Homo sapiens: one gene and its partner. The protein of the gene in region 1 purifies or fractionates together with the protein of each later gene. This does not show direct contact. Each region holds a gene or a part of one and is shown on either strand. Other genes may lie near its edges. The genes, in order: SLITRK6 and PHLDB3.

What was found.
Region 2: the proteins of SLITRK6 (region 1) and PHLDB3 purify together in Homo sapiens (affinity purification with mass spectrometry; one large-scale study listed by BioGRID and IntAct). This does not show direct contact.

Annotation. Positions count from the first base shown.
Region 1 is NC_000013.11:85,796,513-85,800,882, reverse strand, and holds the start of SLITRK6 (SLIT and NTRK-like protein 6 precursor), read left to right. Parts: upstream 1-1,463; 5' UTR 1,464-1,969; intron 1,970-4,350; 5' UTR 4,351-4,370. UniProt on the Homo sapiens protein: Regulator of neurite outgrowth required for normal hearing and vision.
Region 2 is NC_000019.10:43,487,574-43,491,397, reverse strand, and holds part of PHLDB3 (pleckstrin homology-like domain family B member 3), read left to right. Parts: intron 1-3,824.

The DNA of each region.
Region 1 (4,370 bases):
TGCCCCTTCTTTTTTTATTGATTAAAATTCTAATTTCTAACTATCTATCTAAATAATTACCTTGATTTAATTAATTTGGCTAGCAGCTAGCAGGAAATTGTGCCAAACACTAATTATTTATATTTAACTTCACTTATACTCTTCATTCTCTCATTTTTTTATTTTTATTGTATTTTCGAACCCCCTCCTCTGTATCATCATCTCTTTTCCATGTTAAAGCACAAAATGTCATTAAAATAAACGAGAAACTTAATTACTGGGAAATATAAAGTAAAGTGAGAATACTGAAAATTCCCACAGAGCCCTTATGTGTTTAGAGCCAATATACCACCCTGAGACGATAAAACTATATCAATCTGAGTGTATGTCATTAAATAATAATGTGATATTCTTCTATTTTGATGATTTAAACTATATCAACTCTCCTTTTTAAAAACAGCACTTTCTGAAATGACACCTACTATTACATAGAAGGCCTCTAGAATCTGTATTTATTCTAAACAGAATAAACAAATAAAAGACAGCATCTAGTATATGCACTTTGGATGTGAAAAAGTTCAGGAAGGTAGGTAAGAAGAATAACTTTTTAAACCACAGGCTTTTTGAGAAATAAGGAATCTGACAAGAGTAATAATGGTGATGATTCAGAAACTTTTAAGAGCTGAAGAAACACGCAACTTTTAAGATATAACCTATTAAGAATAAATTCTCTCTGAGCTAGCACTATACAAATCAGGTTATTGTAATATCTACATATTTCACTTGTTTCATTTTATCTGTAAAGATATAATGTTATATTTTTGAAAGTGATAAACAGAACTTTATCAATGATAATTATTTTGTGTTTAAAGATTTTTAAATATATTTTAAAATAATTATGCTTTTCTTCTAAATAAATATATTAAAATAACTGAAAGATCTTCATTTCTAAGTTTAATTATTGAATATTAGCTCTAGGGAAAGAAATAATGAAGTAAAAACTTAGAGTCCCTAACATAAGGCTTTAAAAAAGTTAAATGGTGAATACAAAAATACAAATATTGCAGGGAAGCAGTTCGTGTTAACATTTTACAATCTAGTTAGTGCACAATTTCAACTATAAATACCAGATTTAAAAAAAAAAAGAAAAAAAAGAGGCAACTACTCTATAGGCAGCATTCTTGTGTTTCCTGCACACATGTGTGCAAACACTACAGAACAGTGTTAGTTGAGAATTTAACATAACGTATTATTTAGCTTGCTATAACACAATGTACTATTAAGCATTTAAAATGACGTGTTATTATTTCCATCAAAATTCACTTGCACTATATTTGGTATTGAAAGGAGTGGAAAGACCATTTGCAGAAAGAGGAGGAGTTGAGCAGTCCCAAGGTGGAGCTGTCTCTTGTGTTATATGACACTGGCAGATTAAAACGCTCTGATGGGGAAGGGCTTAAAGGCTGAGTCAAAAGCCAAGAAGTCTCTTTATTTACGCCTACCTCCCAGCCCTTGGCAATCTGACTAATAACAAACTGAGCTAACAAGAAATACTAGAAAAGGAGGAAGGAGAACATTGCTGTAGCTTGGATCTACAACCTAAGAAAGCAAGAGTGATCAATCTCAGCTCTGTTAAACATCTTGTTTACTTACTGCATTCAGCAGCTTGCAAATGGTTAACTATATGCAAAAAAGTCAGCATAGCTGTGAAGTATGCCGTGAATTTTAATTGAGGGAAAAAGGGACAATTGCTTCAGGATGCTCTAGTATGCACTCTGCTTGAAATATTTTCAATGAAATGCTCAGTATTCTATCTTTGACCAGAGGTTTTAACTTTATGAAGCTATGGGACTTGACAAAAAGTGATATTTGAGAAGAAAGTACGCAGTGGTTGGTGTTTTCTTTTTTTTAATAAAGGAATTGAATTACTTTGAACACCTCTTCCAGCTGTGCATTACAGATAACGTCAGGAAGAGTCTCTGCTTTACAGGTAAGATGAATGTTTCCAGGCTTTTCTTATACTTATTTTTGCATTATAGTAAAGTGATTGAATTTGTATGTTCGCTTCCTTTAAATAAACAACTTTGCATTAAAGGATACTCAATTTCATTCTTGCTTACTGGCACAACTAACACTGGAGCAGATGCCTGTATTCTCTGAGAAGCAGACATTTAGTCTAACAGCTGGCTACAGAGAAGAACAAATATAATATTCCACTATTTCTTTTGCAACATGCAGTTTGTTGTTAGAAACTAAATATGTGTGCTTTCTGAAGGAAGGATCACTTCCAAATGCGAATGTTGAATTGCAAATATAAGCAGAATATTGAATAATTCTTTGCATTTTGTATGCTACTTATTTTCTGATTTGAAAATACGTATTCTCAGAAAACATGTCAATGAGTATCTTTTGACCTCTTTACCACTGTATCAGATATTGTCAGTAGAGAACCACTTTTCACATCTGTGTGTGTTTCTGAAAAGATTAGAAACTGTTTCCTAGCACGTTTTGAAGAGCATAAAATTCATACAGGATTTACAAAATAACAAGAGTTTATCACTGAAAAATTATTTACTATTTTCTCTGATGCTATACCTGGTGAAATAAATCTTATTCTTTCTTGGTAATTTATGAATAAGTACTTTTAGTGATTGTGGAAGCTAATCCACAAGTTGAAGACTCCAACTACAAGCTGCTTGTTTATAAACTCAGCACACAAAGCTGTTTAAAATCAAATTATTTACCTACAGAAAAATAAAATCTTCTAACTTTCCCTTTACACAGAGGCAGTATGTTGTTTTGTTTCTTCAGTTGCCTTTTGCCTTTCAGGAACTTTGTACTATATGTGTTTTCAATAAAACACTATGTTTTCAGGGAATGCAAGTTTACTTTCAGGATTGTTGATTGGGTTCTGGTATGTTTTACCTGATTGTGAATTTTAATTTGATTCAGTTACTGTTCATATTTCAAACAACAAAAATGAAAACTGATTACTATTTTGAAAAGTTGAATAGTCATAAGATGTGTTTATATTTCAATTTAGTTTATATAAGTTTAAAGTATAATATTTAAAGGAAGGAAATAAAATTAGATCTCATTAGAGCTATAAATGTTTACCTTGCATAACTGTCATTTAAAGGGCAAAACCTTTTTAAGAATTGCTGTTTCAGATGCATTTGTTATGTGTTTCAGGATTAGAATACGTGATGTTATTCTGAACCATCCTTTTTTTCTTTTACTGAATTTGAAATATCATCAAAAAGTTTAATATGGTACAGTTTGTTTCAGATTTCATTGTTTGCGACTTTAAGCCTTTTAATAAAGGCTTAAAGCTGCTTAATTATGTGATGACATTCCGTGCCCTAAAGACTGTTTCAAGACCTCATTAGGAAGTCATTTGCTAGAAGTTTATATGAAGCATTGTTTATTCTTTTACAACAGCCTGAAATGTGTGTTAAAGATTAATCTTGCTTCTTTAGTTTTTATCATTTCCACCTCATCTATAACGTAATTAAGAAGCAGTAAGCAATATACTGCTTCTAGAAATTCAATATTAAATATAATGATTTAAGTGAAATTTGAATGGTCACACTTAAGTGTATGTATCTGATACTATTACGCTTATACAAACTACCCTTGATTGAATAGTTAAAAGAGTTCTTATAGTACTGTACTTTATAACATGATCAAAGACGCATTTTCCTCAAGGTTTTCAAAATAAACAATAAAATTAGTATATATATATATATATAGCCAAAACCGAAGCAGGTTAAAACACAGACACAGTTATTAGATGTTATTGTGTGACACCCAGTTCAACAATATAAAGACAATGCATGCTACATGCGTACATGCATACACACATACACATATGCACACATACATTCTTTTATCATTTTTTACATTCCCTACAGTTCTCTATGCTTACGGCTAATAACTATGTAATTGTCTTTTACTATAATCCTCCAGCCTTAAATGTATGACCATAAGGTTAAAAAATATTTTCAAATATATAACTTTGCATCACAGTGAAGTATCAGTGCTCTAAGGCAGCATCTCTCTCATCTGTTAAAATGCAGGTTATTCATCAGATGTGAGCACAAATTTTATGATATAATATTTTAAATCCCCCTTGACCTAAATTTTATATTTTGAACACAATGCAAGTTAAAAGTCAGCCAGACTTGCCTGTCTGAGTATTAGGAAAAAAAAAAAAGAAACAAATGATGTAAATGCAGCAAGGTACCCATATTTTCATGGTAATCCGTCATTTGCTTTTTGGAGAAAAACCTATTATTTTGAAAATATCAGCTTCATCTCCTCCCCAGTTCTGCCCACTAAAGTCCCTTGCTATTGCGTTTTATTTTACAGAATCGGATTTCATCACATGA
Region 2 (3,824 bases), on another chromosome or scaffold:
TTTGGAGGCAAGAAACAGTCGTATACTGGCAATTCCCCTGGCTCAACCTAATATATAAAATTTCATTTTTTCTTGGGAAGAACCCTCACAAGCAGGTTCCGTTATTATTTGGGTGAAGGGTTAGCAGATGTTCTTCTGTATGGGAAATTAACTTTCTGGCTGCTTCCCCTGGAAACCTGATGAAGGTAGGTGTCAGCTGTGTTGCCAGGCAACGTGACTTAGGATAGCAATTACCCTTATTAGTAAATTGCATATATGAAAATATTTGGTGGGACGCCATGTCCAGTCCTATGGAGTTGTCACCTGACTTGTTGGCCCCTGTGCACAGAAGGCCTCTAAGCCCAGGTGCACCCTGTACCCACCAATGTGGATCATTGCTTAGCTCCTGGATCTCACCTGGGGGCCATGCATGCTTCTACATGCATTGCAGGAGGTCACTCATTTAATCCTTGCAACAACCCAGGAAGGGCAGTGAGATGTTACCCACTTTACAGAGAGGACACCTCGCTTGAGAAGAGAAATGACTTGCCTACGTCATGCACCCAGGAAGTGGCAGAGCTGGGATTTGAACCCGAACCGGCCTGTTTCTATGGCCTGCTGATGGCTTATGCAGTTCCTACAACATAAGTGCCCTGCAGACAAAGCTGGGGTCTGACCTGCCCACTTGGTTCCTCAGTGCCAAGTATCTAATATCTCCCAGCTAGGAAGTGCTGGGAATGTGGCTGGAAGGAAGGAAAAAGTCAAGTAAAGCACGGGGATTTGAGCCTCAGTTTCTTCTCTGTGAAGTGGAGCTAACATTTCTCAACTCCCAGAGTTTTTATTTTTTTTAGTTTTCAATTTTTGAGACAGTCTCGCTCTGTCGCCCAGGCTGGAGTGGAGTGTAATGGTGCGATCTTGGCTCACTGCAGCCTCTACCTCCCAGACTCAAGCGATTCTCCTGCCTCAGCCCCCCAAGTAGCTGGGATTACAGACATGCGCCAGGCTAATTTTTGTATTCTTTGTAGACATGGGGTCTCACTATATTGCCCCAGTCTGGTCTCAAATTCCTGAGCTAAAGTGATCTGCCTTCCCTGGACCTCCCAAAGTGCTAGGATTACAGGTGTGAGCCTTCATGCCTGGCCCATTATTTTCTTACCCATGATTCCCCTTAACCCCTAAATATTCCTAAATTTACTACCTAATGTCAAGCCCATTCTCTTACACAACCACAGTTCAATGATCGATTTCAGGAAACTACCACTGAGACAACACTATTAGAATCCACAGACCTTATTTGTATTTTGTCAGTTGTTCCACCAATGTTTTTCCCTCCCTCCCTCCCTTCCTCCTTCCCTTCCTTCCTTCCTTCCTTCCTTTTTCTCTCTCTTGCTCTTTCTTTTTTTTTTTCCTTTTTGGCAGAGTCTTGCTCTGCCGCTCAGGCTGGAGTGCAGTGGTGTGATCTCGGCTCACTGCAACCACTGCCTCCCTGGTTCAAGTGATTCTCCTGCCTCAGACTCCCGAGTAGCTGGAATTACAGGTGCCCACCACCACGCCCAGCTTATTTTTGTATTTTTAGTAGAGACGGGGTTTCACCATGTTGGCCAGGCTGGTCTCGAACTCCTGACCTCAGGTGATCTGCCTGCCTCGGCCTTCCAGAGTGCTGGGATTACAGGCATGAGCCACTGTTCCTGGCCCCACCAGTGTTTTTTCTAGCAAAAAATTCACAAAAAAAAACAAACTTTTTTTTTCTTGGCTCAGGAACACAGGTTGCATTTAGTTGTCATGTTTATTTGCTTTTAAAAAGTTAACATTCTCCTCGTTCAAAATTCACATGGTGTGGGAGGATATTCAGAGAAGACTCTGCGGCTCTTGTTCCCCCTCCTACGCTGTTCACTTCCTGAGGGCCACCAGGGTTACCAATTTCCCATGTGTTCCCCAGAGATATTCTGTGTTGACACAGCTAGTCATGTATGTACTTTCTCCCTCTTTTATGCATACCTAGTTTATTCTATGCTGTTCTGTACTCGCTTAAAAAAAAAAAAAAAAAAACTTTAAGAGATAGATCTCACTGTCGCCCAGGCTGGAGTGCAGTGGCATGATCATGGCTCACTGCAGGGTCAACCTCCTGGGCTCAAGTGATCCTCCCACCTCAGCCTCCTGAGTAGCTGGGACTACAGGTGCACGCTACCACACCTGGCCTTGGTTTTCTCTTGGATATTATGTTCTGTTTTTTTTCTTTTCTTTTTTGGATATTATGTTCTACCTGGATGTAGGATGCATCTTCCTCTTGTTCTACACTGCAGAATTGTCCTTAGAGTCACTTGGGTGCGGTGGCTCACGCCTGTAATCCCAGCACTTTGGGAGGCCGAGGCAGGTGGATCACTTGAAGTCAGGAGTTCGAGACCAGCCTGGCCAATATGGTGAAACCCCATCTCTACTAAAAATACAAAAATTAGCCTGGCGTGGTGGCACATGCCTGTAATCCCAGCTACTCGTGAGGCTGAGGCAGAAGAATCGCTTGAACCCAGGAGGCGGAGGTTGCAATGAGCCGAGATTGTGCTACTGCACTCCAGCCTGGGCAACAGAGTGAGACTCCAACTCAAAAAAAAAAAAAATGGTCTATGGAGTGCATAAGCCATGGTTCATTTACCTTGTCCCCTTCTGATGGGCATTTAGGTGGTCTCCAGGCTTTTGCTAGCACAGATGGCACTGCAGGGAATCACCTTGAACTCAGATCACTTTGCATGTGTATGAGTGTATCCATCCGCTGAATTTCTAGAATTGGAATTGGGGCTCCATGGTTTATGCATTTGTCATTCAGATTTTTTTTAAAAAAGCCAAGTTGCCCTCCATAAAGCTTGTTCCAGTAGAACACCCCCAGTATCATGTGAGGGCATCTGGGTTTCCTACATAGCCACCAGCACGGTGGGTTTTTTGTTTTTTTGTTTTACTTATTTTTTTTGAGACAGGCTGTCACTCTGTCGCCCAGACTGGAGCGCAGTGGCACAATCTCAGCTCCCTGCAACCTTGACCTCCGGGGTTCAAGCGATCCTTCCACGTCAGCCTCCACAGTAGCTGGGACTGCAGGCACGTGCCACTATGCCCAGCTAATTTTTCTATTTTTTTGTAGAGACAGAGTTTCACCATGTTGCCCAGGCTCATCTCCAACTCCTGGGCTCAAGCAATTTGCCTGCCTCAGCCTCAAAGTGCTGGCATTATAGGTGTGAGCCACTGCGCCTGGCTGCAGTGGGACTTTTTTTTTTTTGCGACAGAGTCTCGCTCTGTCGTCCAGCCTGGATTTCAGTGGCGAGATCTCGGCTCACTGGAACCTTTGCCTCCCAGGTTCAAGCAATTCTCCTGCCTCAGCCTCCTGAAAAGCTGGGATTACAGGCATGTGCCACCACACCTGGCTAATTTTTGTATTTTTAGTAGAGACGGGGTTTCACCATGTTGGCCTGGCTGGTCTCAAACGCCTGACCTCAAGTTATTCACCCGCCTCGGCCTCCCAAAGTGCTGGGATTACAGGTGTGAGCCACCACACCTGGCCCACAGTGGGATTTTTAGAAAGAGTTTTATTGAGGCATAATTCACGTCCCTATACAATTCATTCATTTAAAATGTACAGTTCTGTGTCTTTTAGTATATTCAACGTTGCGCAAACATTACCACAATCAATTTTAGAACATTTTCATTATCCCCCAAAAGAAACCCTGCATCCCTTAGCCTCTCGGTTCCCCGATCTACCCCAGTCCGGGCAACCACAATTCTACTTCCCATTTCTATGTTAATTTGCCTGTTCCGGACATTTCTTTTTTTCTTTTCTGTGTTTTTTTTTTTTTTTTTTG